3 linked regions of the Homo sapiens genome follow. The protein of the gene in region 1 purifies or fractionates together with the protein of each later gene. This does not show direct contact. Each region holds a gene or a part of one and is shown in the gene's direction. Other genes may lie near its edges.

The links.
Region 2: the proteins of SEPTIN1 (region 1) and MYO18A purify together in Homo sapiens (affinity purification with mass spectrometry; 3 studies listed by BioGRID and IntAct, with this or other methods). This does not show direct contact.
Region 3: the proteins of SEPTIN1 (region 1) and ASB7 purify together in Homo sapiens (affinity purification with mass spectrometry; 3 studies listed by BioGRID and IntAct, with this or other methods). This does not show direct contact.

Annotation. Positions count from the first base shown.
Region 1 is NC_000016.10:30,379,306-30,390,041, reverse strand, and holds the start of SEPTIN1 (septin-1), read left to right. Parts: upstream 1-7,480; 5' UTR 7,481-7,499; coding exon 7,500-7,517; intron 7,518-7,676; coding exon 7,677-7,767; intron 7,768-7,862; coding exon 7,863-7,949; intron 7,950-8,158; coding exon 8,159-8,282; intron 8,283-8,568; coding exon 8,569-8,703; intron 8,704-8,797; coding exon 8,798-8,915; intron 8,916-10,008; coding exon 10,009-10,110; intron 10,111-10,507; coding exon 10,508-10,607; intron 10,608-10,736. UniProt on the Homo sapiens protein: Filament-forming cytoskeletal GTPase. May play a role in cytokinesis.
Region 2 is NC_000017.11:29,112,879-29,122,819, reverse strand, and holds part of MYO18A (unconventional myosin-XVIIIa), read left to right. Parts: intron 1-566; coding exon 567-654; intron 655-862; coding exon 863-969; intron 970-1,096; coding exon 1,097-1,273; intron 1,274-1,608; coding exon 1,609-1,822; intron 1,823-2,061; coding exon 2,062-2,204; intron 2,205-3,384; coding exon 3,385-3,485; intron 3,486-4,379; coding exon 4,380-4,443; intron 4,444-4,630; coding exon 4,631-4,775; intron 4,776-5,109; coding exon of another isoform or gene 5,110-5,130; intron 5,131-6,364; coding exon 6,365-6,376; intron 6,377-6,979; coding exon 6,980-7,156; intron 7,157-7,378; coding exon 7,379-7,469; intron 7,470-7,720; coding exon 7,721-7,913; intron 7,914-8,722; coding exon 8,723-8,809; intron 8,810-9,941.
Region 3 is NC_000015.10:100,604,174-100,614,114, forward strand, and holds part of ASB7 (ankyrin repeat and SOCS box protein 7), read left to right. Parts: intron 1-5,533; 5' UTR 5,534-5,655; intron 5,656-7,992; 5' UTR 7,993-8,043; coding exon 8,044-8,254; intron 8,255-9,941. UniProt on the Homo sapiens protein: Probable substrate-recognition component of a SCF-like ECS (Elongin-Cullin-SOCS-box protein) E3 ubiquitin-protein ligase complex which mediates the ubiquitination and subsequent proteasomal degradation of target proteins.

The DNA of each region.
Region 1 (10,736 bases):
TGGGACCAGCCTGGCCAACATAGTGACCCCATCTCTAAAAAGAAAAAAGAATTAGCCAGGGATGGTGTTGCAAAGCTATAGTCCCAGCTACTTGGGAGGCAGAAGTGAGCCCAGGTGTTCAAGACTGCAATAACCTATGATCGCACTACTACATTCCAGCCTGGGCAACAGAACAAGACCCTGTTTCTAAAAAAAAAAAAAAAAAAAAAAAAAAAAAAAAAAAAACTAATCCAAATGACTAAATAATTACTAAATGGGAAGAGAGCTGTCCACCACACACTGCCCTATATGAAACTCAAGGTACTGCCTTCCTTTGTCAAAGCAAACAAGCCCCAAATATCATATGAATGATTCGCCATAATTAGTTGGAATTAATAAGCATGGAAATGGACTATGGTGTCACTGTTAATTCATATAAACTCTACATTTAACACAATGACCAAGCAAGAGCCTTTTTTTTTTTTTTTTTGAGACAGAGTCTCACTCTGTTGCCCAGGCTGGAGTGCAGTGGCACGATCTCGGCTCACCACAACCTCTGCCTCCCAGGTTCAAGCAATTCTTCTGCCTCAGCCTCCCAAGTAGCTGGGATTACAGGCGCGCACCACCATGCCCAGCTAATTTTTGTATTATTATTATTTTTTTTTTTTTTTTGAGATGGAGTCTCGCTCTGTTGCCTAGGCTGGAGTGCAGTAGCACAATCTCGGCTCACTGCAAGCTACACCTCCCGGGTTCACGCCATTCTCCTGCCTCAGCCTCCCGAGTAGCTGGGACTACAGGGCCCACTACCACGCCCAGCTAATTTTTTGTATTCTTAGTAGAGAGGGGTTTCACCGTGTCAGCCAGGATGATCTCGATCTCCTGACCTCGTGATCCGCCCGCCTCAGCCTCCCAAAGTGCTGGAATTACAGGCATGAGCCACTGTGCCCAGCCAATTTTTGTATTTTTAGTAGAGACAGAGTTTCACTTTGTTGGCCAGGCTAGTCTCGAACTCCTGATCTCATGATCCGCCTGCCTCAGCTTCCCAAAGTGCTGGGATTACAGGCGTGAGCCACCACACCCGGCCACAAGAGCCTTTTTTGCAGGGTTGTTTTCTTTTTGTTGTTGTTTTTGTTTTTATTTTTATTTATTTTTATTTTTAATTTTCTTTTGAGATAGAGTCTTACTCCGTCGCCCAGGCTGGAGTGCAGTGGCGCAGTCTCGGCTCACTGCAACCTCTGCATCCTGAGTTCAAGCAATTCTCCTGCCTCAGCCTCCTGAGTAGCTGAGATTACTGGTGTGCGGCACCACGCCCGGCTAATTTTTGTATTTTTTTTTTAGTAGAGATGGGGTGTCGCCATGTTGGCCAGGCTGGTCTTGAACTCCTGACCTTAGGTGATCCACCCACGTTGATCTCCCAAAGTGCTGGGATTACAGGCGTGAGCCACCGCGCCTGGACTGTGGTTGTTTTTTTTGAGACAAGGTCTCGCCCTATTGCCACTGCACCTGGCCTGGCATTAATATGTACAAATGCTTAAAATATATAACTTCCTGGGCCGGGTGCAGTGGCTGTAATCCCAGGACTTTGGGAGACCAAGAAGGGAGGATTGTGTGAGTTCAGGAGTTCAAGACCAGCCAGGGCAACATAGCAAGATCTTGTCTTTACTAAAAATCAAAAAGCTTAACTGGGTATGGTGGTGAACACCTGTAGTCCCAGCTAAAACAAACACAAAAACTAAAACAAAAACAGATAATGTACATGTGCATGTATCATAGAAAGATGTAGAGAACAGGCCTGGCGTGGTGGCTCACACCTGTAATCCTAGCACTTTGGGAGGCTGAGGTGGGTGGATCACCTGAGATTGGGAATTCGAGACCAGCCTGACCAACACTGAGAAACCCCATCTCTACTAAAAATACAAAAAAAATTAGCCAAGCGTGGTGGTGCATGCCTGTAATCAATCCCAGCTACTTGGGAGGCTGAGGTAGGAGAATCGCTTGAACTCAGGAGGCGGAGGTTGTGGTGAGCCGAGATCGCGCCATTGCACTCTAGCCTGGGCAACAAGAGAAAAACTCCCTCTCCAAAAAAGAAAAAAAAAAAGATGTAGAGAACACATGAAGCAACAAAAGCATGTTTCCAAAGTTATAATGTGACCCTATTTTTATAAATATAAACAGTGTGTATACATATATATAGGCGTACGAGAAGGATAAATACTAAAATTGGGTTATAGAAAGATAGTGATTGGGAGGCCAAGGTGGGCAGAGCACCTGAGGTCAGAAGTTCAAGATCAGCCTGGACAACATGGTGAAACCCTGTCTCTACTAAAAATACAAAAATTAGTCAGGTATGATGGCAGGCATCTGTAATCACAGCTAGTCGGGAGGCTGAGGCAGGAGAATCACTTGAACCCAGGAGGCAGAGGTTGCAGTGAGCCGAGATCGCGCCATTGTACTCCAGCCTGGGTGACGAGGAAAACTCTGTCTTTTTTTGGTTTTGTTTTGTTTTGGAGAGGAAGTCTCACTCTTGTCCCCCAGGCTGGAGTGCGATGGTGCGATCTCCACTCACTGCAACCTCTGCCTCCCGGGTTCAAGTGATTCTCCTGCCTCAGCCTCCCGAATATCTGGGATTACAGGCATGCGCCACCATGCCTGGCTAATTTTTGTATTTTTAGTAGAGACAGGATTTCAACATGTTGGCCAGGCTGGCCTTGAACTCCCGACATCAGGTGAACCGCCCACCTAGGCCTCCCAAAGTGCTGGGATTACAGGAGTGAGCCATGGCGCCCCGCCGAAACACTGTCTTTAAAAAAAAAAAAAAAAGGCCGGGCGCGGTGGCTCACGCCTGTAATCCCAGCACTTTGGGAGGCCAAGGCGGGCGGATCACAAGGTCAGGAGATCGAGACCATCCTGGCTAACACGGTGAAACCCTGTCTCTACTAAAAATACAAAAAAATTAGCCAGGCATGGTGGTGGGCACCTGTAGTCCCAGCTATTCGGGAGGCTGAGGCAGGAGAATGGCGTGAACCCTGGAGGCAGAGCTTGCAGTGAGCCAAGATCGTGCCACTGCACTCCGGCCTGAGTGACAGAGCAAGACTCTGTCTCAAAAAAAAAAAAAAAAAAAAAGGCCAGGTGCAGTGGCTCATACCTGTAATCCCAGCACTTTGGGATGCCGGAAGTTCAAGACCAGCCTGACCAACATGGTGAAACCCCATCTCTACTAAAAATACAAAATTACCTGGGCGTGGTGGCACATGCCTGTAATCCTAGCTACTCGGGAGGCTGAGGCAGGAAAATCACTTGAACCCGGGAGGCAGAGGTTGCAGTGAGCCGAGATCACACCATTGCACTCCAGCTTGGACAACAAGAGCGAAACTACAAGGGCGAAACTCCATCTCAAGAAAAAAAAAATGGTGATATCACATTAAAAAATATATTTTTTTCGAGGTAGGGTCTGGCTCTGTCACACAGACTGGACGATCCTCCCACCTCAGCCTTCTGAGTAGCTGGGACCACAGGTGCATGCCACCATGCCCAGCTAATTTTTGTATTTTTTGTAGACATGGGGTTTCACCATGTTCCCCAGGCTGGTCTCGAATTCCTGAGCTTAAGCCATCCTCCTGCCTCAGCCTCCCAAAGTGCTGGGATTACAGGCATGAGCCACCACTCCCGGCCCACATTTAAATGTTTATATTTCAATTGCATTTTATAATTTTTCTATGAAAACATGTGTTGGTTGTACAATAAACAGATAAATATATATCATCCTAAATTTTGTATTTTTTTTGAGACAGGGTCTCGCTCTGTCACCCATGCTAAAGTGTAGTGACACCACAATGACTCATTGCAGCCTCAAATTCCTGGGCTCAAGTGATCCTCCTGCCTCAACCTCCCAACTAGCTGGGGCAACAATTGTGCACCACGATGCCCAGCTAATTTTTTTTTTTTAATTTGTAAAGACAGGATCTCACTGTGTTGCTCAGGCTGGTCTCAAACTCCTGGCCTCAAGTGATCCTCCCACCTCGGCCTCCCAAAGTGCTGAGATTACAGACATGAGCCACTGCCTGGCCTACATGTTATCCTCTTTTTTATTTATTTTTTTAATACAGATCGGGTCTTGCTATGTTGACCAGACTGGTCTTGAACTCCTAGCCTCAAGCAATCCTCCCACCTCAGCCTCCCAAAGCACTGGGATTACAGGCGTGAACCACCACGCCCAACATTTTTTTTTTTCCTTTAAACATGTTATTCTGTCAAAGGCTGTTGAATAACTCAGAGAAGAGTTGATCAGGGTCTGAACCCAAAGCAGGTTAATGGCATGGAGAGTGTGAAGAAAAGGGGACCAATTTTTCTGAAGGATAGGTGGGAATTGGAAACTCACTGGAAACACTTGTGGGGAGTGAGAGTGGGAGGAGTTCAGAAAGTTTTTTTTCCTTTTTTTTGAGACAGAGTCTTGCTCTGTCGCCAGGCTGGAGTGCAGTGGTGTGATCTTGGCTCACTGCAACCTGCGCCTCCTGGGTTCAAGTGATTCTTGTGCCTCAGCCTCCCAAGTAGCTGGGATTACAGGCACGCGCCACCACATCCAACTAATTTTTGTATTTTTAGTAGAGACGGGGTTTCACCATGTTGGCCAGGATGGTCTCGATCTCCTGACCTTCTGATCTGCCTGCCTTGGCCTCCCCAAGTCCTGGGATTACAGGCGTGAACCACCACACCCGGCTGATTTCAGAATTTTAACTAAGACCATAGAGATGCTCAACCTGGTGAGAGATGCAGGAGGAAGGCCGGTGGTGGAGTGCTGAGAGGTAACATGATCCCTGCCCTTTGCTTATTTATTTATTTATATTATTATTATTATTATTATTATTATTATTATTATTATTATTATTTGAGAAAGAGTTTTGCTCTTGTTGCCCAGATTGGAGTGCAATGGCACAATCTCAGCTCACCGCAAACTTCACCTCCCAGGTTCAAGTGATTCTCCTGCTTCAGCTCCCGTGTAGCTGGGATTACAGGCATGCGCCATCACGCCCTGCTAATTTTGTATTTTTAGTAGAGTCAGGGTTTCTCCATGTTGCTCAGGCTGGTCTCGAACTCCTGACCACAGGTGATCTGCCTGACTCAGCCTCCCAAAGTGCTGGGATTACAGGCATGAGCCACCGCGCCTGGCCTACTTATTTATTTTTTTGAGACGGAGTCTTGCCCTGTCGCCCAGGCTGGAGTGCAGTGGCAGGATCTTGGCTCACTGCAACCTACGCCTCTCAGGTTCTAGCAATTCTCCTGCCTCAGCCTCCCTAGTAGCTGTGATTACAGGCGTGCACCACCATGCCTGGCTAATTTTTGTATTCTTAGTAGAGACGGGGGTTTCACCATGTTGGCCAGGCTGGTCTCGAACTCCTGGCCTCAAGTGATCCGACTGCCCTGTCCTCCCAAAATGCTGGAATTACAGGCATGAGCCACCGCACCCAGCCCCCCTTTCCAGATTCTTAACAGTCCCTAGATGGTATTAAGTAGCATTTTTGTTTGTTTGTTTTTTGTTTTTTGAGACGGAGTCTTGCTCTGTCACCAGGCTGGAGTGCAGTGGCACGATCTTGGCTCGCTGCAACCTCCACCTCCTGGGTTCAAGCAATTCTGCTTTAGCCTCCTGAGTAGCTGGGACTACAGGCAATGCCACCATGCCCAGCTAATTTTTTGTATTTTTAGTAGAGATGGGGTTTCACCATGTTGGCCAGGATGGTCTCAATCTCTTGACCTCGTGATCTGCCCGACTCAGCCTCCCAAAGTGCTGGGATTACAGGTGTGAGCCACCGCAGCGGTCCTGAGGTAGATTTGTTTGTTTGTTTGTTTGTTTGAGATAGGGTCTTGCTCTGTTGCCCAGGATGGAGTGTAGCGGTGCAATCTCGGCTCACTGCAACCTCCACCTCCTGGGCTCAAGCAATTCTCTTGCCTCAGATTCCCAAGTAGCTGGAATTATAGGTACGCACCACCATGCCTGGCTAATTTTTGTATTTTTGCTAGACAGGGTCTCGCCATGTTGGCCAGGCTGGTCTTGAACTCCTGGCCTCAAGTGATCCACCCGCCTCGGCCTCCCAAAGTGCTGGGATTACAGGTGTGAGCCACCACGCCAGCCAGGTGCTGGGAATCTGAAGGAGGGACAATGACCCTGCCTAGGGTAGGTGGAGAGATTGCATAGAGGCAGAGCCCTTGGAAAGAAACACTTGAAGGATGAGGAAGAGTTTAACTGATTCAGAAAAAGGAAAAGCTCAATGTGGGTAGAGAGCCAAGGACGTTTGGAAGAGTGAGAGATGGGGTGATGAGGCCAGCTGAGGGAGGCTTTGGCAGTCAGGCCAGAATTCAGACTTGACTCTGAGTTACTGGGGAGTTCCTGAAGGATTTTGAGCAGTGGAGTTCTTTGGCCAGGATTCTGAAGGAAAATCTCTCGGGCAGTGGTGTCCAAAGACCTGGAGTCCTTTTATGAATCCATTGTCTGAGCTGGAAAATGTATGGCTTCACCCACTCCCAATCCCATCATGGCTTCTGGTCCACTTTTTTCTTTTTCTTTTTTTGAAACAGCGTTGGCCTGGCATGGTGGCTCACGCCCGTAATCCCAGCAGTTTGGGAGGCCGAGGCGGGCAGATCACGAGGTCAGGAGATCGAAACCATCCTGGCTAACACGGTGAAATCTCGTCTCTACTAAAAACACAAAAAAATTAGCCAGGCGCGGTAGCAGGTGCCTGTAGTCCCAGCTACTCGGGAGGCTGAGGCAGGAGAATGGCGGGAACCCGGGAGGTGGAGCTTGCAGTGAGCCGAGATGGCGCCACTACACTCCAGCCTGGGCAACAGAGCGAGACTCCGTCTCAAAAAAAGAAAGAAAGAAAGAAAAAGAAACAGGGTTTTGCTGTGTTGCTCAGGCTGGAGTGTAGTGGTGTGATCACAGCTCACTGCAGTCTTGATCTTCTGGGCTCATGCAATCCTCCCACCTCAGCCTCCCCAGTAGCTGGGACTACAGGATTGTACCAACATGCCTGGCTAATTTTTTAATGTTTTGTAGAGATGGTAGAGGGGCACGTCCCTCTGTTGCCCAGGCTGGTCTGGAACTCCTTGGCTCAAGCTGTCCTCCCTCCTCCGCCTCCCAAAGTGCTGAGATTACAGGCGAGAGCCACCTTGCCCGTCCTGGGAACTGTTTTCTAATCAGCTCATCAAAACCTTCATCTCCCCTGCTAACAAAGGGAGCCACTTCCTTCCTCTCTGCACATACCCCATGTCTCACCACGATGATGGAGCTACAGTGGGACTTGGAATCCAGATGTGTGAAGGATGGAGGGTTGAAGGTACGTAGACAGGTGATGGGCAAAGGGGTCCAGGAGGTGGCAACCCCAAGTGTTCTTGGCCTTGGCCTTCCCCACCTCTCTGGGACTGGGCCAGTTTGAGCATCTCAGCTGCCTCTTCTGCCCGCCCCCTTGTTAGCCGCACTCAGCTTCCTGCCCCACCAGAGGAAGTGGGGAGAGACGGCAGGTGCAGTGATGGCTGGCGGAGTCATGGTGAGTCCTTACACCCAGAAACCTGGGCATCTCGGCCCCCAGCCCCCATGCCTGGGGTCCCCAGACCCCACTGACTCTTCCTAGCCCAGGAACTCAAGTGATCCTGGGGACCCTGCCTGCCATTGCCAGCAGCCTCATATTGTCCACCCCCATCCATAGGACAAGGAGTACGTGGGTTTTGCTGCCCTCCCCAACCAGCTGCACCGCAAGTCTGTCAAGAAGGGGTTTGACTTCACGCTAATGGTGGCAGGTCTGGGGGTTTTGGAGAGGGAACTGCGGAGGGGATGTCCTTAGGAGGCCCTGGCTGTCCCCTCCCCTGACCAGTTGGGCCTGTTCTGTCCACAGGGGAGTCAGGCCTAGGGAAATCCACCCTCATCAACAGCCTCTTCCTCACCAACCTCTATGAGGATCGCCAGGTGCCAGAGGCCAGTGGTAAGACCCTCCCCACCCTCTTGAGGCAGTAGCCCCTGTCCCCAGGTTACACCCTAGTCTTTTCCATCTGGGGACTCAGGTAGTTGACTGCTTTTTTTCTGAGACTTTCCTCCCCTGGGAAATGGGTGCAGGCAACTGTGATATTGACAAAGGAAATTAATTCTGCCTCAGAGCCTCCCCGGATCCCTGACCTCTCCCCCATCCCACAGCTCGCTTGACACAGACCCTGGCCATTGAGCGCCGGGGCGTAGAGATTGAGGAAGGGGGTGTGAAAGTGAAGCTGACCCTTGTGGACACACCTGGCTTTGGGGACTCAGTGGACTGCTCTGACTGGTGAGGAAGAGGAAAGGGGACAGAGGCTCAGCCTTTCACAGTGGCGACTCCCTGGAGAGTTACAGGACTGGTTTGTGCTGGCTCCCTATCTCAAAAGGTGGTGTCTGTTTCAGAGGGCCACTGGGTCCCTGTGCTTCTTGATGACTCACCTAGGCCCCCACCAGTTCCCCTTAATGTCTTTGGAGGGAGCCAAAGAAATGACATTCTACTCCCACAGTCCTGGCTAGCCTTGCCCCCTGCCCTCTGGCCTTTGATCTCTGACCTCACATCCTCTCCCCACACCCAGCTGGCTTCCGGTGGTGAAATTCATCGAGGAGCAATTTGAGCAGTACCTTAGGGATGAGAGTGGCCTGAACCGGAAGAACATCCAGGACTCCCGAGTCCACTGCTGCCTCTACTTCATCTCACCCTTCGGCCGGGGGTCTGGTGGGGGGATCCTGGGGGCTGGCGCATTTAGGGAGGGCTGGGGGGTCTCTGCCCCCTGAGGCTGGGCAATGACCAATCCCTGGGTGCAGGCTCCGGCCCCTAGATGTGGCCTTCCTCCGGGCAGTACACGAGAAAGTCAACATCATCCCAGTCATTGGCAAAGCGGATGCTCTGATGCCCCAGGAAACCCAGGCCCTCAAGCAGAAGGTGTGAGTGATGACCTCTGACCTTTGACCCCATGTGAAGCCAAACCTGATTTCAGCTTAGACTTCTTTGATCTTGAAGTGGCCTTTCTGGAGCATGGTGCATCAGGCTAGATTGTAGGAGAAGCTTCTGAGGAAGGCGGGTGGTAAGCCGCCAGCATAGCCATGTCTCTGAAGGCTCAAAATAGGCTACATATGCAGCCCCCGGGCTAGATGCCTGGCTGAGGCCTATTTGAGGGCAGGAGCATAGACATGAGAACATAGTGACTTCCCTCTGGCCCCCACCCCGTGTCTTCAGAGCCCTTTCCCACTGTTTCTGCTTATATCTCTCTCGGCCTCTCTTTCTCTCTCTTTTTTTTTTTAGATAGAGTCTCACTCTGTGGCCCAGGCTGCAGTACAGTGGCAAGATCAGAGCTCACTGCAGCCTCGAACTTGTAGGCGCAAGTGATCCTCCTGCCTCAGCCTCTTGAGTAGCAGGGACTATAGATGAACACCACCATGCCTGGCTAACTTAAAAAATATTTTTTTGGCTGGGCTTGGTGGCAGACACCTGTTAATCCCAGCACTTTGGGAGGCTGAGGTCAGTGGACTGCTTGAGCTGAAGAGTTTAAGACAAGCCACGGCAACATGGTAAAACCCCATCTCTACAAAAAGTACAAAAACCAGCCAGGTGTGGTGGTGTGCACTTGTAGTCCCAGTTACTCAGGAGGCTGAGATGGGAGGATCACCTGAGCCTGAGAGGTTGAGGCTGCAGTGAACCAAGATGGAGCCACTGGACTCCAGCCTGGGTGATAGAGTGAAACCTTGTTTCAAAATATATGTGTATATTTGTTGTAGAGATGGGATCTAGCTATATTGCCCAGGCTTCTCCTGGTCTCTTAATGTCTGCCCCATCTTAGAATCTTGTGTTTCTCACCATCTATGTCTCTGAGATTTTGTTTTTGTCTTCCTGTATGTCCATCTCTCCCCATCTCTGTCTTTCATGTCTTTCTCTCTGTCTCTGACCACCCAGTATCTCTGTGTCTCACTGTCTCTGGTCATGAAATGTCTGTCATTGTGGCCCGTTTCACACTGTCTCTATATCTGTTTCCCCTGAGATCCGGGATCAGTTGAAGGAAGAGGAGATCCACATCTACCAGTTCCCCGAATGTGACTCTGATGAAGATGAAGACTTCAAGAGGCAGGATGCAGAGATGAAGGTGTGGGAAACAAAGAAGGAAGGCAGGCCGGGCACGGTGGCTCACGTCTGTAATCCCAGCACTTTGGGAGGCTGAGACGGGAGGATCCCCTGAGGTCAGGAGTTCCAGACCAGCCTGGGCAACATGGCGAGACCCCACCTCTACTAAAAATACACAAATTTGCCAGGTGTGATGGTGGGCGCCTGTAATTCCAGCTACTCGGGAGGCTGAGGCAGGAGAATCACTTGAACACTCCAGCCTGGGCAATGGAGTGAGACCCTGTCTCAAAAAAAAAAAAAAAAAAAAAAAAAAGAGGAAGGGGCAGGAAGCAGAGGAGGCGGGTGTGGAGATTGAAGCTGGGAAAGAGAAAGTTTCTGCCGTGTGAGCCAATGGTGAACCCCTGCCCCCTGCCCTCCAGGAAAGCATCCCTTTTGCAGTCGTGGGATCATGCGAGGTGGTGAGGGATGGCGGGAACCGGCCGGTGAGGGGACGCCGCTACTCCTGGGGGACCGTGGAGGGTGAGTGAGGCCAGGCAGGGGTCCTAAGGCCAGCAGGGAGCCCGGGGCCTCTGGGTCAGGCGCACTCAACATGTGAAGTTGGGGTGGGCTTTGGTCCCAGGGGATCCTAGGAGGAAAGGGGGGTCGCTG
Region 2 (9,941 bases), on another chromosome or scaffold:
GGGCTGAGGCCAGGGCTCTGAGCCCACCTATCATTCTGTACTGCGAAGTCCAGGCGACTCCCCGCTGAGATCTGAGGACATGCCCTCTCCCAGCTTGGCAAAGGAGGCCCTATCATTTGGATGAAGGGAGAAGCTGGGCACGGAAGATCCTAGTAGCTGTGGCTAGGGTCTAGGGCCTTGGACTCAGGACACTGATCTCCTGGGCTTGACAGGGTGGAGGAGCAGAGGGTGGCTGAGGGAGAACCTGGTGATTTGCTTTCCTGGGGTCTCCTCTTTCCTGGGCACAAGATCCCTGTGTCCCTGTCTTGCCAGACCCTCACTGATGGTACGGTCTCTAGCCTTTGTGTCCTGTCCTCAGGGCTCCTTAGAGCCACCCTTGCCTCCTAGCTTCCCCACCCTCTTTCCCAGACACCTCTGATGTCCCTGTGTTCTGTGTCTGTCACCTAACTCATTCCTTGCCCAGTGGCTTGTCTCAAAGCCCATGCCCTCACTTGTCTCCCCTCTACGGCTGTCCTTGTCCCTGTCTTCCATAGCAGGGCCTGTTTATTCTTCTCTCTCTCTGACAGGCGAAAACAGAAGAACAGATTGCAGCAGAAGAGGCCTGGAATGAGACGGAGAAGGTGTGGCTGGTCCATAGGGACGGCTTCTCACTGGGTGAGTCTCAGAGGGTCTGGGGGCACATGTCAGGACTCACTGGTCTCAGGGCTGGGCAGCGAATGTGCCTTCTGCATCTGGTGAGGGCTGAGCAGTGAGCAAGGAGAGGCTGGTGATGCAGTGGGGGGGAGGATAGGACCGAGAAGTTCCCAAGTGGAGTAGCAGAGGCTTCCCAGGCCCATCCCAGCTGTCTGTCCCTCCCCTGCAGCCAGTCAACTCAAATCTGAGGAGCTCAACTTGCCTGAGGGGAAGGTGCGTGTGAAGCTGGACCACGATGGGGCCATCCTGGATGTGGATGAGGATGACGTTGAGAAGGTAGGTGGGCAGGGGGCTGGGTGTGGGGGAGGAGGCTCAGGAGTGCACTGGGCAGGGCAGGCCCATCCTCTGGCAGCGGAGATGGGCTCTGCTGCTCTAATACCCACCCGCCTGTCCTCCCACACAGGCTAATGCTCCCTCCTGCGACCGTCTGGAGGATCTGGCCTCACTGGTGTACCTCAATGAGTCCAGCGTCCTGCACACCTTGCGCCAGCGCTATGGCGCTAGCCTGCTGCACACGTATGCTGGCCCCAGCCTGCTGGTTCTTGGCCCCCGTGGGGCCCCTGCTGTGTACTCTGAGAAGGTGCAGCACCCTCAAGGCTACCCTGCAGACTCCTGGTCCCACCCCCTGCCCTGGCTCTCTGCCCTTCCCCTGTGGCACCCCACTGGGCTCCTGTCCACTCTCACAGTTGACCTTGGGAAGAGGAGTCATTTCAAGAGATGGGGGACAGGACCTCCCCACAACCTTTGATGGAGTCCAGGACTTAGTGTCTTCATTTCCATGCATGGCCTTGGCCTTGGAATCCCTGGGCACTACAGGAGGGAAAATCCAGAAAGATGTGGACCTTGGGGGTGAGGGGTGTCTTAATGGGATCAGCTAAGAGCCAACCCCTTCTCTCCCTTGCTCTCCTGCCCAAGGTGATGCACATGTTCAAGGGTTGTCGGCGGGAGGACATGGCACCCCACATCTATGCAGTGGCCCAGACCGCATACAGGGCGATGCTGATGAGCCGTCAGGATCAGTCAATCATCCTCCTGGGCAGTAGTGGCAGTGGCAAGACCACCAGCTGCCAGCATCTGGTGCAGTACCTGGCCACCATCGCGGGCATCAGCGGGAACAAGGTGTTTTCTGGTGAGGCAGGGACAAGGGAGAAAACTGAAAGTGGGGTGAGGGGAGGGGAGTGAGGAGAGAGCACCCTCTTAAGTGCCAGCTCTTTTTCTCCCTGGCCTTTCCATCCCCCCGAAACCCCTCTGTCCACGGGCAGTTCTGGTCTGAATGGCCCCAAGCCTTCATACCTCTGGGGTAGCTCCTAGCTGGGGGATAAGCTGCCCCTGGCTTTCCTGATATCCCCTTGGGCCTGTATTCTGCAGTGGAGAAGTGGCAGGCTCTGTACACCCTCCTGGAAGCCTTTGGGAACAGCCCCACCATCATTAATGGCAATGCCACCCGCTTCTCCCAGATCCTCTCCCTGGACTTTGACCAAGCTGGCCAGGTGGCCTCAGCCTCCATTCAGGTGAGAGTGCTGCCCAGGACTCGGGGTAGTAGGACACAGGCCACATGATTTCATGACCTAGACATCAGGCTCTCTCCCATGCCTCATTTTCCTGGGATTCTACCCTAACAAAATTGACCCAGGCATGGGCAGGGTTGGCCTGCACTATCCAGAGGCATCACCATTCTGCCCTCAGGGCCTCCTGCCCTGGATGGGGCCAGTCCAGCTTTCTGCCCAGTTCCCTTCACTCTCCCAACCCTGGGGTTGTCCTAACTCTACTGCTGGGCCTCAGCCTTACTTCCCACTTTCTGAGATTCATGCTCGGGGCTTCTCTCGGGCCGATTTCACCTAGCAGAGGACTGGCTTGTCAGTAAAGTAAGGCCCAGCCAAGGCTGATTCCCTCCCATGCTAAATACCTCACCACAAGCTCCCATTTCCAGAAGGCAGGCACCTGGGGTCTGGGCAGAGCAGCAGGGCCCCTTTGGGAGCTGGGCCTGTCTTCTTCCACCTCATTCTGGTTTCTGTCCCCCATTTGATCCTAGAGGGATCTGGTATCTGATTGAGCACCTTGGGAATAAGATGCACCTGCTTAATTGAGCCAGATGTGGTAGTGCACGCCTGTGGTCCCAGCTACTTGGGAGGCTGAAATGGGAGGGTCACTTGAACCTGGGAGGTTAAGGCTGCAGCGAGCTGTGATTGCGCCACTGCACTCCAGCCTGGGCAACAGAGCGAGACCCTATCTTAAAAAAAAAAGACTTAAAAAACAAGATGCAGGTTGGGTGCGGTGGCTCACGCCTGTAATCCCAGCACTTCGGGAGGCTGAGGTGGGTGGATCACCTGAGGTCAGGAGCTCAAGAACAGCCTGGCCAACATGGCAAAACCCCATCTCTACTAAAAACACAAAAATCAGCCGGGTATGGTGGTGCATGCCTGTAATCCCAGCTACTCAGGAGGCCAAGGCAGGAGAATTGCTTAAACCCAGGAGGCAGAAGTTGCAGTGAGCCAAGATCGCTCCACTGCACTCCAGCCTGAGTGACAGAGTGAGACTCCATCTCAAATCTTAAAAAAAAAAAAAAAAAAAAATGCAGCTGCTTGTTCCCCAGGGCCTAGAGGACCATGTGTTTGATTCCTTCTTATGTGGGGTGGGAGAAACTTGATCTGGCACTACCCTCCTTACCCACACGTCCATGCTGTGTCACAGACAATGCTTCTGGAGAAGCTGCGTGTGGCTCGGCGCCCAGCCAGTGAAGCCACATTCAACGTCTTCTACTACCTGCTGGCCTGTGGGGATGGCACCCTCAGGTGAGATGGGTCAGAGGGTACACAAGGGTTCTCTGAACTCCAGCCCACTGACTGGGCTCCTGGACCTTGATTGCATCCAGAATTAAAGCCACTTGATCGCATCCTGCACTGTTTGGTCAGTGCATGTCTGCTATGTGCTAGGCTCTGAGCTAGGCCCCAGGGACAGTGAGATGGATGAGACATAGTCCCTGCCTATCAAGAACTCCCTGGTCCTGGGTACTGGGGCCTGGCTGTATTGGAGGGGAACAGCCAGCCCTTCAGTGTTGCCAGGGCCTAGCTAGGATCTCCATTACCCATGAAGCCAGTTCTGGAAAGCAAAGCACACTGAGGTACCAGTGGTTGGGGACTTGCCTACTGTCGCATGACTGGTAGGGGGCTGAACTGGTATTTGAATCCACACTGGGGCCAAAAGCCCATGCCTCTTCCAGTGCCCTCCAGACTAGCCCTTCCTGCCCCACGTTGGCTGCCTCTGCCACGCTCTTCCCTTCAGACATTCAGATTTGCCGCGTGTGTTCACTAAAAAGAGATAAATGATGAGGCTGAGCCAGCATCCCCAGGCCATTGTCCTCTTTAGCCCTTCTTGTAACTGAGGGCATCGTCTCTGCCTTGGCGGGACTCACCCTTCGGGCAGGTTCCCTGCTCCCTTCCGGGGGCCAGGTTGCATCCTCTCACCAGGGCATGTCTGGTGGCTTGTCCTCAGGAGAATGGTACTCTAACCAGGCATCCAGGCCAGTTAGGAAAGCAGTGACAGCTGGCCCGCCAGTTGGGGATGATGGGATGATGGGCAGACAAAACTTGGAGTCTGGAAGCTGAGTCTGTCTGTCTCCACCCTGGGCGGAAATGGCCTTGGCATGGGGACCAAGTGCCGTGCTGATGCCTTATTTGTACCCCTAGGACAGAGCTCCACCTCAACCACTTGGCAGAGAACAATGTGTTTGGGATTGTGCCACTGGCCAAGGTGAGGGGTCTGTGGGGTCTGGGTTGCCAGCCCTGGGCCTTGGGGGTAGGAGAAGCCTCCATGGGTCCTGTGGGAATAGTGGGAGCCCAGCTCCAGCTGCTGGCTCTACCCAAGCCTTGCCCTGAGGGCCCAGCCTCATGGGGGTGTGCTGGGAGGGACAGCCCTTTGAGGTCATCTATCTCCACAGCCTGAGGAAAAGCAGAAGGCAGCTCAGCAGTTTAGTAAGCTGCAGGCGGCCATGAAGGTGCTGGGCATCTCCCCCGATGAACAGAAGGCCTGCTGGTTCATTCTGGCTGCCATCTACCACCTGGGGGCTGCGGGAGCCACCAAAGGTAACCTGCAGTGGGTCCCAGTAGGCTGGCCTGTCCCCTGGGTGACCTCACAGGGACCCTGCCCACTCCCAGTTTATTCTTGCCCAGCACAGACTTAGCCGTTCTGAGACAACCCTCTTTTGCTTGTGCCTCTTCTCAGCCCCCCACTTCAGAGCAGAAGGCCCGGGAAGCATCTTTGGCAGTGACGACCCGAGGCCTGGACTTAGCTGGCTGTGCTGGGGGGCACCATGAGGAAGCATGGAGGGCTGGGGGTTCAGAGGCTGAGGGATGAGAAGGGCACTAAGGCAGGGCAGCCCCGCTGGAATAACTCTCCTTCTTGTTCCCTTCCTGACAGAGGCCCCCGAGGAGCAAGCGGGTAACTGACCTTGGCCCCGCCCTTGGGTATAGGGGCCGCCGTGCCCTGTCTTGGTGCTTGCCCAGGACTTTCTAGGGGCTGGGCTTGTTCTGTTGCTGCAGAGAGGACTGGTCTGGGGAGAAGCCTGGAGGTTGAGAGTGGAAGTGGAGCCTGCAGGCTGTGGGGTGTCTTAGAGTCCCAGGAGTAGCTGCTTCTCCTGCCAGTTTTAGATCTGAATCCTGGAACCTCTCAGGATGCCCACCGTGGGGTGGGGTAGGGTGGGCTTGCTACCTGGGGCCTCCCCAGACCAGTTTTCCCCAGTCCTCTTCCCTTCTCCACTGGTTGGGTAGCTCCGTATCTTCCTCTTGCATGTCAGGGTGGCGGCCACTAGGGGGCAGCAGGCACCGTGGTAACGAATGGGCTGCAGCTTTGGCACTTGCGCTCGGGGACTTGGCCTGGCTTGGAGGAGCTCTGCTCCATCCTTCAAGATGACTTACGTTGGAGGATGGCGATTCGAGCACCTCTTCACCCCCTTTTTCTCCAGTTTAGGGAAAGGGGATGCTGGCGCTGAACAGCACCTTGGGCTTTGGCTTTGGCCCCTTCTGGGATGTGAAGGGCCCCAGGCTGCTCAGCTGGAGTGAGAAAGTCCTGGCAGGTGGTGGGTGTATGGAGGAATGGGTGCCCAGGCGTGAGGCTCCATGCGAGCGACCCCAAGAAGTGGCATCCCTGCCCAGGAGGAGCCAGGCTCTAGGTTAGAGAAGTTTTCTCGAGAATGTGGAGGACAGACAGGCGGGCAGGCGTGTGGCTGTGTGTTGAGGGAAGTTACTTCACTCTGAGGCGGTGACAAGCCTAGCTTTCCTCTAACCTACCCAGCCCCAACTGCAAGCGGAAAGCTCCGGGTGTCAGCACAGCGATCTTCTCAAACAATGTCTGTTAGCGCCTCAGAGCTTCCAGTGTTTTCCGGCGGGGGGGGGGGGGGGGGGGGAGGGTGTGTTTGCGCACACACACATGTGCACAAATGTCTTTGCGGGTCTCTTTCTGTGTGTGTCAGTGTGATTACACCCACAAACATACTCCCTGGAGACTGTGTGTGTGTGCGTTTGTCCCAAGTCTGACTGTGGTTGTGTTTTCTTGCCTACTCATCCTCACAACACCCCCGCCCCACGGTCCCTCCGAGGCGGCGAGCTCTATTGATGACTGTTTGCTAACACACTGTTTTTCTTTGCATGCTGCATGCTGGTCCTTTGCCTTACAGAAGCTGCTGAAGGTAAAACCTTGTTTCTTGTTAGCTTTCCCTAATTGCCGTGATTAGACACATGTTGGCTGAGGCACATATGTCTGTGCGGGCTGTTCCCTTTCCCCTGTGGCTTTTTTGCCTCCCCACTGTTGGGCCATCAGTGGGTGTTTGTGGTCTCCACTGGCAGATGCCAGGGGGCAAGAGGGAGGGTTCTAATGTACTCAGGGAATGTGGAGGCATGAGCGATCTCTCAAGATAAGTCCCCCACAGGCACACGGGGTTCTTGTGCCCATCCCAGGTGGGCTGGTTCATCCTCTGACTCCGCCCTTCCCCTAGTTGGGCATCCCCGGAGCTGAGCCATCTGAAAAGGGATTTTTGCAGCTGGTTTGTTGCCCTCCGGTGGCAGCATGTGGAGTTACCTCCTCCTTTAGGACCTGCTCATTCTCTCCATCCCCACGGGACACAGGAAATGCTGGCCACTGCTGGCTGCCCCTGTTCTGCCTGAAGCCCATCGGGTGTCATCAGGGCTGGCTTTTGCCTCCAGAAGATGCATAGTCATCAGCTGGTCATCAGGTCATCAGCTGGCCTAAGGAAAAAGACCCAGGATGCCAGATCCCTTTTTCCACTCCACAGCTGGGCGCAAGCAGTTTGCCCGCCATGAGTGGGCCCAGAAGGCTGCGTACCTACTGGGCTGCAGCCTGGAGGAGCTGTCCTCAGCCATCTTCAAGCACCAGCACAAGGGTGGCACCCTGCAGCGCTCCACCTCCTTCCGCCAGGGCCCCGAGGAGAGTGGCCTGGGAGATGGGACAGGTACCCTTTGTCCCTTGGCTGGTAGTTGTGAGTGTGAGGCCTCATCTGGGGCTTGCTGCCATCCCTGGGGCGGGAGGGGACTGCTGGAGTGAACAGATGCTCTGTCAGTGGCAGAGGCCCTGCCCCAGGCCCCGTGCTGACTGGGCCCTGGGCAGGTCAGGGGCTTACCCAGATGGGGAGCCCTGGGGAGAAGGAGATAGCGCTGCTCCCCCTGCCCCACAGGCCCGAAACTGAGTGCACTGGAGTGCCTTGAGGGCATGGCGGCCGGCCTCTACAGCGAGCTCTTCACCCTTCTCGTCTCCCTGGTGAATAGGTGAGTGCCAGGCAGGACCCAGGGCTTTTCCTGCTTTGGCAGAGGTGGAGTAGATGCCTTCATGCCTTGTTGGCCGAGGCAGAGCCGGTCTCTTCCAGCAGGGGCTCCCTGTCCCATGGGCTATGAGCAAGGCCAGCATGCCCTCCCCACCAGGGTCCTGGGCAGGGATAGAGGTCTGGCTTGGGCAGGGTGGGGCTTCCTGGTGCCCGGGGCCAACCAGCGAGGCTCTGACCCAGGCTGTCCCTATCCAGGGCTCTCAAGTCCAGCCAGCACTCACTCTGCTCCATGATGATTGTCGACACCCCGGGCTTCCAGAACCCTGAGCAGGGTGGGTCAGCCCGCGGAGCCTCCTTTGAGGAGCTGTGCCACAACTACACCCAAGACCGGCTGCAGAGGCTCTTCCACGAGCGCACCTTCGTGCAGGAGTTGGAAAGATACAAGGAGGTAGCTCTGGGGCCTGGGCCTCATCTAGCCTCAGATTCTGGCCTTGGCACCCACAGCGAGGGCATCTGTGGATGCAGAAGGCATCACCTTACTCTCCATTTCTGTCCTCCTGCGCTCTCTGGAGCAGGAGTCGTTCCTTGCCCCCTTGTCCGTGGCCTCTGGCTTTGGCTACGTTCTTACTTGGTGGAGAGTTTACTCTCCAGGAAGCCTACAGGTGCATTGAGGGCCCCCAGGAGGCTACCCTTGGCCTCTTTTGAGGCACCTCCCAGGCCTGGTGATTGCCACTGTGTGGTTCCTGCTCCAAGTGTGTCTGGGCCTGGCCTTCCCGTCTCCCTTCCCTGATCTGTGAGGGTGCCAGGTGATGATTTAGTGCCTTCTGTAAAAGGGTGTCCCGGATGGGACGAGAACTGGAAATCCTGCCTCATCTGGAAGTGAGTTGAGTGAATTGTCAGGATATTTATTTGGGGCGAGAGAGGATTCAGAAGGAAAATGGCAGTTGTCTTCAAGTGTTTCAAGGATGATTGTGTGAAATTGAGAGTGGGCTTGTTCTGTGTTGCCTAATCAACTCATGTGAGTAATGAGAATGTGACTCTGGCTTCGGATAAAAAGAGGTTCTGAGAATTTTAGCTGTGCAAAAAATACAGTGTGTTTCCTTGGGAGCTGTTTCATTTGGGATGATGGAGGGAGCTCCTGCACGGCACAGAAGGAGGTTGGCCTTGCTGATCTCAGAGCCCCTTCCCAGCCTACTCACAAGGCTGTTCCCCACAATGTGACCCCCATGCTCACTACCGCTCGGCCTTCTTTCCCAGGAGAACATCGAGCTGGCGTTTGACGACTTGGAACCCCCGACGGATGACTCTGTGGCTGCTGTGGACCAGGCCTCCCATCAGTCCCTGGTAGGAGCTCCAGAGAGGGTTTGGGCAAGCCTTTCCTCTCGTTCCCCACCCCTCTCCCCGTGGTGGAGCCCTCCCCATCTGAGCTGCTGCTGGGGGTGCCACTGTGGGCTGAGGGAGGGTCCAGCAGCTATGCCCAGACACCAACTACTCTCTGGTGCTGGGGCTCTGCCCCTCAGCACTCAGGCAGTCTTGGCCAGGAAGGTGGCACTTTCTTCTGCCCTGGTGCCCTGGGGAGCCACAGCCCATGGGGGTCCCAGTCAGGCAGGAAAGCATATCTCCTTTCTCAGCAGCTGAGGCTCGGGCCCCAGCTGGTGACTGGCTGAGCCTCCAGTATGTCTGCTAGGAGCCCTGGTGACCAGTCCCAGCTGGTGAGGGCCTAGACCCCAAGGACATAGTCATTCCCTCCCATTGTCCCCAAGTAGAGGACTGGTGCAACCTAACAGAACAGGGCCAGGAGCCAGCCTCCCGCTCCCAGGGGAAACAGTGCTAAGCTGTCAGACGCCCTCTGGGGGACTGTCATGGATATGAACCCTCACCCCTCAACTTTGGGGGCAGGCTTTGTCACCCTTTGTGCTAGTGTCCTGGGCACCTTGGCACTCGGTGGGGGACTGGCTGGCCTAGCAAACTCTTGGCATTTGGCGATTGTCCGCCATTAGGGAAATTGCATAAGGTGCTTTATTGGAGAACTGGCATTTTTGCGAGGCTGCCGACCTCCCTGCTCTGCTTTGATCCCTACCTCTCCCTCCCTCTTCTCTGCCATGAGGCCCTGCTTGGCTTGCACAAGTGGTGGGGCTGCGAAAGAGTGAGTATCCCCCCGGGGACAGATGTTTAAAGTGCCCAAGCACCGCATCTCCCCAGGGAAGTGAATTTTCTTTTCCTGACACCTGGGCTCCTATGGTGGCCTCACTCAGAACCGTTGTGGTTCCCGGGAGAGGGGGGATGTCAGCATGAGCAGCAGGAGTCAGACAGCATGTGGGAAGAGCTTGGCTCTCCTTTCTCTTCTGTGGTCTCTCCTGACTAATGGACCTTGGCATGGGGCGGCTGCACCCCTGGGGAAGGGGCCCTCGGTGCCAAGCCTGTCTTCCCATCTCATTGCTTCATTGCTCGTTCCTGCTACTCGGTTCCTGCCACT
Region 3 (9,941 bases), on another chromosome or scaffold:
AACTTTTACGTAGAGTTTGCTGGATTGAAATTTAAGCATCTAATTCATGTGATCACATTTCTGCTGCCATATTTTGTTGCTGCTTCTGAAAATGCTCTGAAAGTAAACTTAGGACATTAGTGTAATTCCTAAAGGGGGGATATAAGCATGGAAATTATACAAGGTTTAATTCCAAAATTAGCCAAATGGATGACTTTTTTAACATCCAGTAGCAAAAGTATAAAGTGACTTGTTAATCTGAGTTATTTTAATATCCCAAATTGTTTAGGGAATTTTTGTTACAAGGAAGTGCTTAAAATAGCAGAAGTTAATATTTTTGATTTCCTATGTTCCACTGGACTTTCTGCCCTCCACAAAAAGAAATTAGTATCTTTACTGATTCTGTTAATTCTTAAGACATAGCTAAAGAGATAAAGACATAGCTTTTAAGGGGATCTGAGGTATGCATATTCTTGAGACATGGAACTGCATGCCAAAAGAAGAGATTCTAGGGAATAGGATTTAGAATCAGTATCTACCAATGACTGTTCCCTGTTGAAAACTTAGGGCAGCTTTTGTATGTATATGTAGGGAATCAGGAGTACTAGACTACATCATTTCAGTAAAAGCTACCCGGAAATCTTTAAAGGCTAATTTTTATTATGTAAGTATGGAAGTTGTCAGGGAGATGGCCTAATGATTACTTCAGAACTTTTAAAAAATGCTAAAATATTTGAAGTATGTTCTAAAGATCAAAATGAAGTACTGTGTTTTGTATTCAAGCCTCTCAGTTAAATATTTTTTCAGCTTTACATGTAACTCTAGGACGCTTTCATTTCTAAAGAGTAGTTTCACCTGAGATGGTAAAGGGAAGGAGTCTGTGGCTAGTCCAGCACATAAGGTAAGAGAGGATAAGTCTTTACTCTGGCTCTCAGCCAGTTCATTCTCATTGCTTAAATCGTATTTCATGGATCATCTCATTTTTTAATAGTTTTTCTAAGATTAGGGAATATGTGTAAATTGTCAACATCTGTCATGTTTCTAATATCAGAATGACTGAGAGTATTTGGTCTAGATTATACCAGGCATTTAGAATATTTAATTTGGGTATTTATTTACCAACATGGCTAGTTAGGTAGCTTACATTTTTTAACCTGGCAGTTAGCTTTGTATTAATTCTATTGCCAATCATGTGGCTTAAAAAAAATCCAATTTATTTCGTCACCAAATATAGATTTATAATCACGTAGGGAGAATAATTGATTTTAATTGAAGATATGCAATGATGCATCTTTAGTATACTGTGGCCAGTACTTACATTCTTTACACATAAAGTGATGTCATTTACAATTAGTTAATACTATGACACATACAGTATCTCTTTAATTTGTTCACGTTTAACTTTGGTGACATAGAGATACACACCATCCCTAAAAAGTCTAAAGCCAGATATGATTTATATGGGCATATCTGTTACCTGACTTTCAGCCTTCCACATCATAATCCCCTGAATGCCCTCCCTACGTAGGATGATTGTCTCCTTTCTTGCAAACTTTCTAGGAATTGACACATGAGGCTACAAAGATGGTGTTGGCAGACCTAGGTTAATAAGATAATATTGACAGGACCTCATCATTATAATACTTGTGATTTAAGCTTTGAGTTGGGTCTGGATAAGTCCAAAATTTCTTCTGTTGCTTCATCCACACTTCATGAAAATTATTGGTTTCTCTGCTGGAATTTATGTGGGTCATGGATAAGTTGTGCATGGTAATAAATCCTTATGTTATATGGAGGCCCAGTAATTTGGAGGAAATACTAATACCTTTATTTGTTTTGGATCATAACCACTATGCTATACTTTGTTGAGTGACACTAAAATAACACTTATACCTTATTTTGGGTTCCAGGCTCCTGATCATATCAGTAGAGCTTGTGAACAGGCATCTCAGCCATGTTCTCCGTTTTGGTACGGCCGTGTAGTGTTTTTCCATCCATCTTCCCTCTTAGATCTTGTGAATGTGAACCATTGAAGGATTGTTTTTTTTTTCTCAGACCCAATGTCGTCGGAGTTGCTGATTGCATTTATTTTCTTACCAGCATGTATTTTTGTTTACTTTGCAAAGAAATGCTTATTTCTTTCTTTGAGTAATAAGCCATTATCTTGTTGCTAAGTTTATGTGACATCAGAAAGCACAGTTCAGTTTGCATCACTTAATCAGAAATGTGTGGACTTTTAATGATAATAATATGCAAAAAGTCATTAATGTCTAATCATTTATGCCAAAGGAGATTTGGGAAATATGGTCAAATTTGGTGAAGGTTTTGTAACTTCGGACAGGTCTTAAGCATATTTTGTTTTATGTTTATTTTATTCTTCACGCTGTTCTATCATATAGACTTAACTATGTGAAGCAAGAAGTTTTGGGTTTAACTAAATGAACTTCACTTGGCATCTATATGGAAATTAGATGGTAATGTACTTGAATTTCTAAATTAGTAGTTTTTAATATGGTCAATAGTATTAAAGCTTGGAAGCCTAGATTCTTTTCTTTTGACCCCAAGTGGAAAAGAAAGTCTTCCTTGTTTGTTTGCTTTTTTTTTCCTTGTGACTGTGAAAGCTAGAATAAAATTTCTGAAGATCATACCCTCAGAGTATCAGTAGCTCCTGAGTCCACAAAAACATAACTAAACATACATAACTTACAAAATTACCTCCTGGCCGGGCGCGGTGGCTCACACCTGTAATCCTAGCACTTTGGGAGGCCGAGGCGGGCGGATCACAAGGTCAAGAGATCGAGATCATCCTGACTAACATGGTGAAACCTCGTCTCTACTAAAAATACATGAATTAGCCGGGTGTGGTGGCACGCTCCTGTAGTCCCAGCTACTTAGGAGGCTGAGGCAGGAGAATCGCTTGAACCCTGAAGGCAGAGGTTGCAGTGAGCCGAGATCGCACCACTGCACTCCAGCCTGGCAATAGAGCGAGCCTCCGTCTCAAAAAAAAAAAAAAGAAAATTACTTCCTTTGCTATATTCCTTTTCTTTTTATAGGTGACTTCCATGAGCTATCAGTTTTTTAATAAACTCCCTGAGGGAAAATAGGCTTTCTTCCATTCTCATCTCTGGACTTCCTCTGTTGTTTTTTAATAGACATATTTACCACTAGATATTGTGTTTGCTTTTCAGCTCCATAGTCTTTTCTTCATTTATACACGTGACTCGACTCTGTCAGGCGCAGCTCTCATAAAGTAACACCAGGAGGAAATTACTTGTTGATGCTTTTGACTATTTGGGGGTCTTTTGTAATAAATTATTTTCTGTCGTAATTCAAAGCAGTGTAGCTGACAGGGATCATGTGTGCATGACGTGTGTGTATGTTTTTTTCTGGTAAACGTTGATGCACTAGTACATGCAGGGAGTACTTTTTTGGTTTAAACCTGTGGTTATTGTTTATAGCACTTGGTATTTTCAGAAAAGAGAAAAATAATCTTAAAATGTCTGGGATTTTAAAAAATTCATTTTAAGTATGCAGAACTCTATTGGAATACCACCTGGAGGTGCTACCTGTGGCCAAACCCTATCACTGTGCCACGTTAAGTGTCAAGCATTCTGTAGACATTTGTTTGTTTGACTGAAGGAGCTCATATGGAATTAGCACAAGTTGCTACCACCTGTGAATCTTTCTTGTTGGGAGAAATAGTTTGGCCACTTCATCTTTTACCACCAGGCCTTTTCTTGATATTGTTAATAAATTAACACCATTTCCTATTCTGCTCAGCTCTCATGCCGTCTTCCCTGACACTTCCAGCTGCCTCCATGGAAGTGGCGGTGGATAGTTGGAAGCCAGCAACAACCACAAGGATTCTTCAGGCTTGAAGCTATGTTGGGTCATGTTTACTTCTTATGGGAAGTAAGGGGTGCTGAGGACACACTTGGAAGTGAGATGTCCAGTGATGTTCACTCTTGAAATGTAGATGTAGCTCGTGAAAAGTGGTGGCATATTCATTTGTGGCAATGTGTGAGGCTCATCACTGGGGACACTGATTTGCATTTTAAAATAAACTTTATTGTAGGAAAGCTTTGGATTTACAGAACAATTACTGAGGCTGTGCAGAGTTCCTACATGCTCGATACTCAGTTTCTCCTACTAACATCTTATATTAACATGTTTGTCACCACCTTGAGGAGAGACTACCTATACAAATTATTTGGAATTCTGAACAACAGATGTGTTTCTCCCCCTTTATTTATCGAATCAGTTATTTGTATCAATGTGAACTCTTGATATCCACTTTGTACTTTGTCATCTGGTACTGTTTTAAGTATTGCTGCAGTTATTCCCTCTTTGGCTATTGAGGGATCTTTCAGTTGGCTCCTGTGTCCCTTTGACCTCCCCCACCGTGGTGTCTTTCTTTGAGCACCTCCTTGCTTTCTGGCACCGTGTGATGTTCCAGTCTTAGAATCGGCCATTTGTATAAGGATCGCTTTGCATGTTTCACAGCTTGCTTTGTAGGAGTTGTTCTGATCTCGTCGGCCTCATTTATTTAGAAATAATAATAGAATTTTAAAACAAATTTTATTTCCAAGGGCAAGTTGGCAAACTCTTTACCTTCCTTGAAGAGGTTTGTCAAGGAAAAGTAGATGAGAATAGAGGAAAAGAGAGAAGTGGACTATACCAATTTGGATTGGTTGAAAATTCTGGTGTGCAGCCAGCAGGACATACAACTGCTGCGGGCCAGGTTGCTAAGTGGCCCGACCTTTTCTTGTCTGAAGGTTTAAGTGATGCTCACCCACCGTCAGGGGATGAGGTAGTAGTTCTCCCAATATGTAATTCCTAGAGTTTTATGTGGAAGTCACTTTGTGTCCTTAACTTTGTTGGAATTAACAGAGCTGGAATTTAATTGACACGAAGAAAGATCCCTTTTCTTTTAGTTGTGGAGAGAGTTTATTCAGAATTCACATGGGGAACCTGGCAAGGCTGTTGTTAATGTTTTATCTAGTTCGGTGTATGCATAAAGGAATAACAATTTCAAAGTGATTGACTTGATGCCTTTAGGGCACATGAAGAAAATGCATTTAAAGACACAGTCTCCTTTTAGTTGTCATAGATTTTATTTTAACCCAGGCCACCTATTATATTTCATGCACACGTATTCTCATTTAAGTCCTGTTTAGAAAGTGCAGGTGACTTATGGTGTCGGTTAAAAAGTAATTCAGATAAAGCAAGTCTGAAACTGTATTCTCAATAGAGGAAAATGAAGAATCTATGCTTGCATCCAAATTCCAAATATGTGATTTATTATTTTTTTTATTTGCTCTTTCTCAAATAGCTGCATTTTGGGGGGAAAAGCCTGAAACTAAATAGTATTTATTGGAGATGAACATATGTAACAAGATTATTTTCTGTAAGAGTTGATCTGAGTTCTTTCTCTGCTCTATAGATTTATTGTAAAGCACTGAAGTTTACATTCATCAAAAGGTAGACTATGCAGACAGCTATGATTATTATTTTAAGGAATTTTCCTATGATTGTTATTTTTATTTGTTTCTAGGTTAAGAAGGCTTTTTTGCTCTGTAGCCTGGACGTACTTTGAAGCCCCTCCCCACGATGCTGTACGTGCACAATGGTTACTAGGCAATCCGTACATCAGGAGAAGGGACACTCTTCCATAAGGCAAGTTGCCTCAGGGTCATTGGTCATCTGTGTTGTTCCGGGGGAAAGCTCACTTAACTTTTACTTCTCTCTTAAATCAGTTAATGTATACTAAATACACCACTCACTAAAGAAAACCCAGGTTTGTTTTGATATTGTTTCAGTCTTTTTCTTGCATGGTAGGCCTCGTTTAAGTGCCAACATAATCACTTAATTAAAAAGAAAAGCTGTTAAGGATGATTGTGAGCATAGTATGTTTCCATTAATTCCTTCAGACGGTCTTCAGCATTTTCTCTCATAACAGAATAAGCAAAAACCTATTCTGAAAGGATTCTCATTTTAAAATTTCTAAGAAGGGACAATTTTTGTGAAGGAATTGAGAGAAGAAATAAGAGGCAATCTTGTGGCCGGGCGCAGTGGCTCACGCCTGTAATCCTAGCACTTTGGGAGGCCGAGGCTGGTGGATCACGAGGTCAGGAGATCGAGACCATCCTGGCTAACACGGTGAAACCCCGTCTCTACTAAAAATACAAAAAAATTAGCCGGGCGTGGTGGCAGGCGCCTGTAGTCCCAGCTACTTGGGAGGCTGAGGCAGGAGAAAGGTGTGAACCCGGGAGGTGGAGGTTGCAGTGAGCTCAGATCGCGCCACTGCACTCCAACCTGGGTGACAGAGCAAGACTCCGTCTCAAAAAAAAAAAAGAGGCAATCTTGTTTATTCCCATATTTCTCTGAGGAAATAGCTATTTGTAGAAGTAGCTTGATATTTTTAAATTTGAGCACTTAGTTGTGATACTTAGGAGTAGGTAATGACACCATTTTCTATGTATAAAACAACATAGGATATTTGTATTCTTAAGTTGTAATGATTTGACTTAACCTAGGCCTAAGTTTACTTTTGTACAGTCTATAGTAAGTTTTGCAAGATAAACGATTGTTGGTAGCAAGATTATCCTGATATGTCTAACCTACATATGAGAACAGAAATGTCTTTAAAGGGCTTCATCACAGTTTAAAAAATGTTTAGAAACAAAGGGACTACTAGTTAAGAGATGAGTCTAATCTATTCCTTCCAGTTAGCACACCTGGAGTGGCTTTCTGGAAGCTTGTTAGTTTTCTGTATGTAGTTAAAAGCTTAAAAACACACTAAAAATGTTTTTGTATACACACATGTAAGATGCAACTTTTTACCATTTCACTTTGGACTGTTACTGTTTCCATGAAGGAGGTCTCATTTTACTTTCTTATTTTAATTTTTGAGACAGGGTCTTGCTCTGTATCCCAGGCTGGAGTGCAGTGGCACAATCACAGCTCACTGCAGCCTCAACCTCCCAAGCTCAAGTGATCCTCCTGCTTCTACCTGCCGAGTAGCTGGGACTACAGGTGCACACTACCATGCCTGGCTAATTTTTTAATTTTGTATTTTTTTGTAGAGACAGGGTCTCACTGTGTTGTCCAGGTTGGTCTTGAACTCCTGGGCTCAAGTGGTCCCTTTTTCCTTGGCCTCCCAAAGTGCTGGGATTACAAACGTGAGCCACTGTGCCTGGCCAGATATTTCATTGTATGTTGGGTTTTAGTACAGTCCTTTTTTGTGACCTATTAGAGAGTATGAGAATTCACTGTACTACTTTTCCTTTTAGTAATTTGATCATGTGGTTAATCACCAGATTGTTTCGATTCTTTTTTTTTTTTTGAGACAGAATTTCACTCTCTTGCCCAGGCTGGAGTGCAGTGGCGCAATCTCAGCTCAATGAAACCTCCACCTCCCGGGTTCAAGCAATTCTTGTGCCTCAGCCACCCAAATAGCTGGGATTACAGACATGTGCCACCACACCCGGCTAATTTTTGTATTTTTGGTAGAGACAGGGTTTCACTATGTTGGCCAGGCTGGTCTCAAACTCCTGGCCTCAAGTGATCTGCCTGCCTTGGCCTCCCAAAGTGCTAAGACTGTAGGCGTGAGCCACTGTGCTTGGCCTGATTGTTTAGATTCTTAAGGTTTTAAAATATATTGCTACTTTTTTTTTTTTTTTTTTGAGATGGGGTCTTGCCCTGTGGTCCAGGCTGGAGTGCAGTGTTGCTATCATGGCTCACTGCCGCTTTGATCTCCTGGGTTCAGGTCGTCCTCCCACCTCAGCCTCCCAAGTAGCTGGGACTGATCCCCTGGGCTCAGGTGATCCTCCCACCTCAGCCTCCTGAGTTGCTGGGACTATAGGCTTGCACCACCACACCCAGCTAGTAGTATGCACTGTCATTAGTAAGGTTTACTGATGTAGCAAATGGAATGTTCTGTGATATTTAATAGATGCAGTATCAGGAACCAGTTATTCTAAATTTTACCTTTTCTACCTTCTCTTCTTAAAGGCTGATCCCCGTAACCTAATGAATCCTTTGTAAAAAGTGGACTCAGCTAGGATGTTACACCATCATTGTCGAAGGAACCCTGAGCTCCAGGAAGAGTTGCAGATTCAGGCCGCGGTGGCTGCTGGGGATGTCCACACAGTGCGAAAGATGCTAGAACAAGGCTATTCCCCGAATGGCCGAGATGCGAATGGCTGGACTCTGCTTCATTTCTCTGCAGCAAGAGGAAAGGAAAGATGTGTTCGGGTTTTTCTAGAACACGGAGGTGAGTTTTGTAGAAGCAAATCTTTTTCCCCATGGAGAAACATAAATGATGTTTAGTTTAAAATGTGTCTATTTGTAATTTTTAATGCTTCTCTTCTGTTAATACTCAACATATTATTCTCTCTCCTTTGTGAAGATTTGCTATAAGTGTGCCTTTTTGTTTAAAACCAGATTGTTTAAAAGATCAGTTTTATGAATGGATTCTTTTCCCTGAAACTGTAGTGTCTGTACAGCCAGGTTTGCCCAGGTTATTTCAGCTAAGCTACCTTTCTTCAGGTTGTCCAGCTGCTTTTGTTTCAGAAGCAGAAGTGGCTGTGGTATGCCCATAATTAGAGAATTGCACAAGTTTCCCCTGTTGATTATTGCTTAAGCGTATAGACCGAGCACCAGTCCTTTAAACATCATGGCCTAATGATACCCTATCCTTATCTTTTTGTTTCAGATGCTTTCCTTTGTTATTTTAGAGCACTTGTTTTTTCCAGAAACTGTACATAGTTTGTAGGTATACTATAAGAAGATTGGTTATCTGAGATCTAATTTTGTATAAATATGTGCAATTGGAAACTATATTTGACATATTAATGTTTTTGCTTTGAAAAACTGTTCATTCCCATGGTTTTTAAACCAATGATTGTCCAAAACTACTTTCTCCAGTTGAATTTCAGCCTACTTTATTTTCCTAGAGATGGGTTTTTTATATATTTGATCATGTATACCCACATTATCTCTGTAAATTATGGTTGAAAGCAGCTTGGTTGGGGACTCAAATTACATACATGCCATTCTAGGGCTTTAATTGCTCATTAGAAGTGATTTAGTTTCCTTCCTAAGGTGCACTTTGTTACAAAACTAGCCAAACTTCCTTGCATTTTGAGGTGCAGAAAAATGTTGGAAGTTCTAGAATTCTTATGAGGGTCATGTGAATAATGTGAATATATGAATACAAAGGCTAACAGGATGGACTGATTGCAAGGCATGCTAACACTGAGACTAGGAGTAGCCACATGGCCCAGGGGCCCTGAAATGGGAACTATGTGCCTGAAATAGTTGACCATTGTCAGAACCCAGAAATTCTCTGGCCTGTGCCTACTTTGTAGCTTGTCTTCCATGTCATTTCACCTTACAACACAAAAACTTCAGTTCTGAAGTTGATGAAAGGGAAATAGAAGTGGAACGCCAGGAAAAAGATCTGTAAAAAGTAAAAGGTGGGTGTAAAGTCAGAACGGTTAAAATTCTATGCAGGGCTTCATAACATTAAGACCAAGATGAGGGCTCACAATGTTTATTCCACCTAGTCCTGTTGCTTTTCACTTCTGCCAGCCTTACTTTAAAAAAAGTTACTAAAAGTTCTGTTATTCAAGTAATACATGAATATTGTCTCTTTCAAATGAAGCAAATCTTCAGTTAAATTATACAAATAAAGCCAAAGTCCCCTTTGACTAACCCCTAATCCTTGTCCATCTGCCTCTGTGTGGATGTAACTGGGTATACGTTTGGTTTAGTGCTTATCCTTCTGGAGTATTTCCTGACACTATTACATGGACTCATAGAAATTCAGTCATATGACCAAGCGTGGTAGCTCACGCCTGTAATCCCAGCACTTTGGGAGGCCGAGGTGAGTGGATCGCCTGAGGTCAGGAGTTTGAGACCAGCTTGGCCAACGTGGCGAAACCCCATCTCTACTAAGA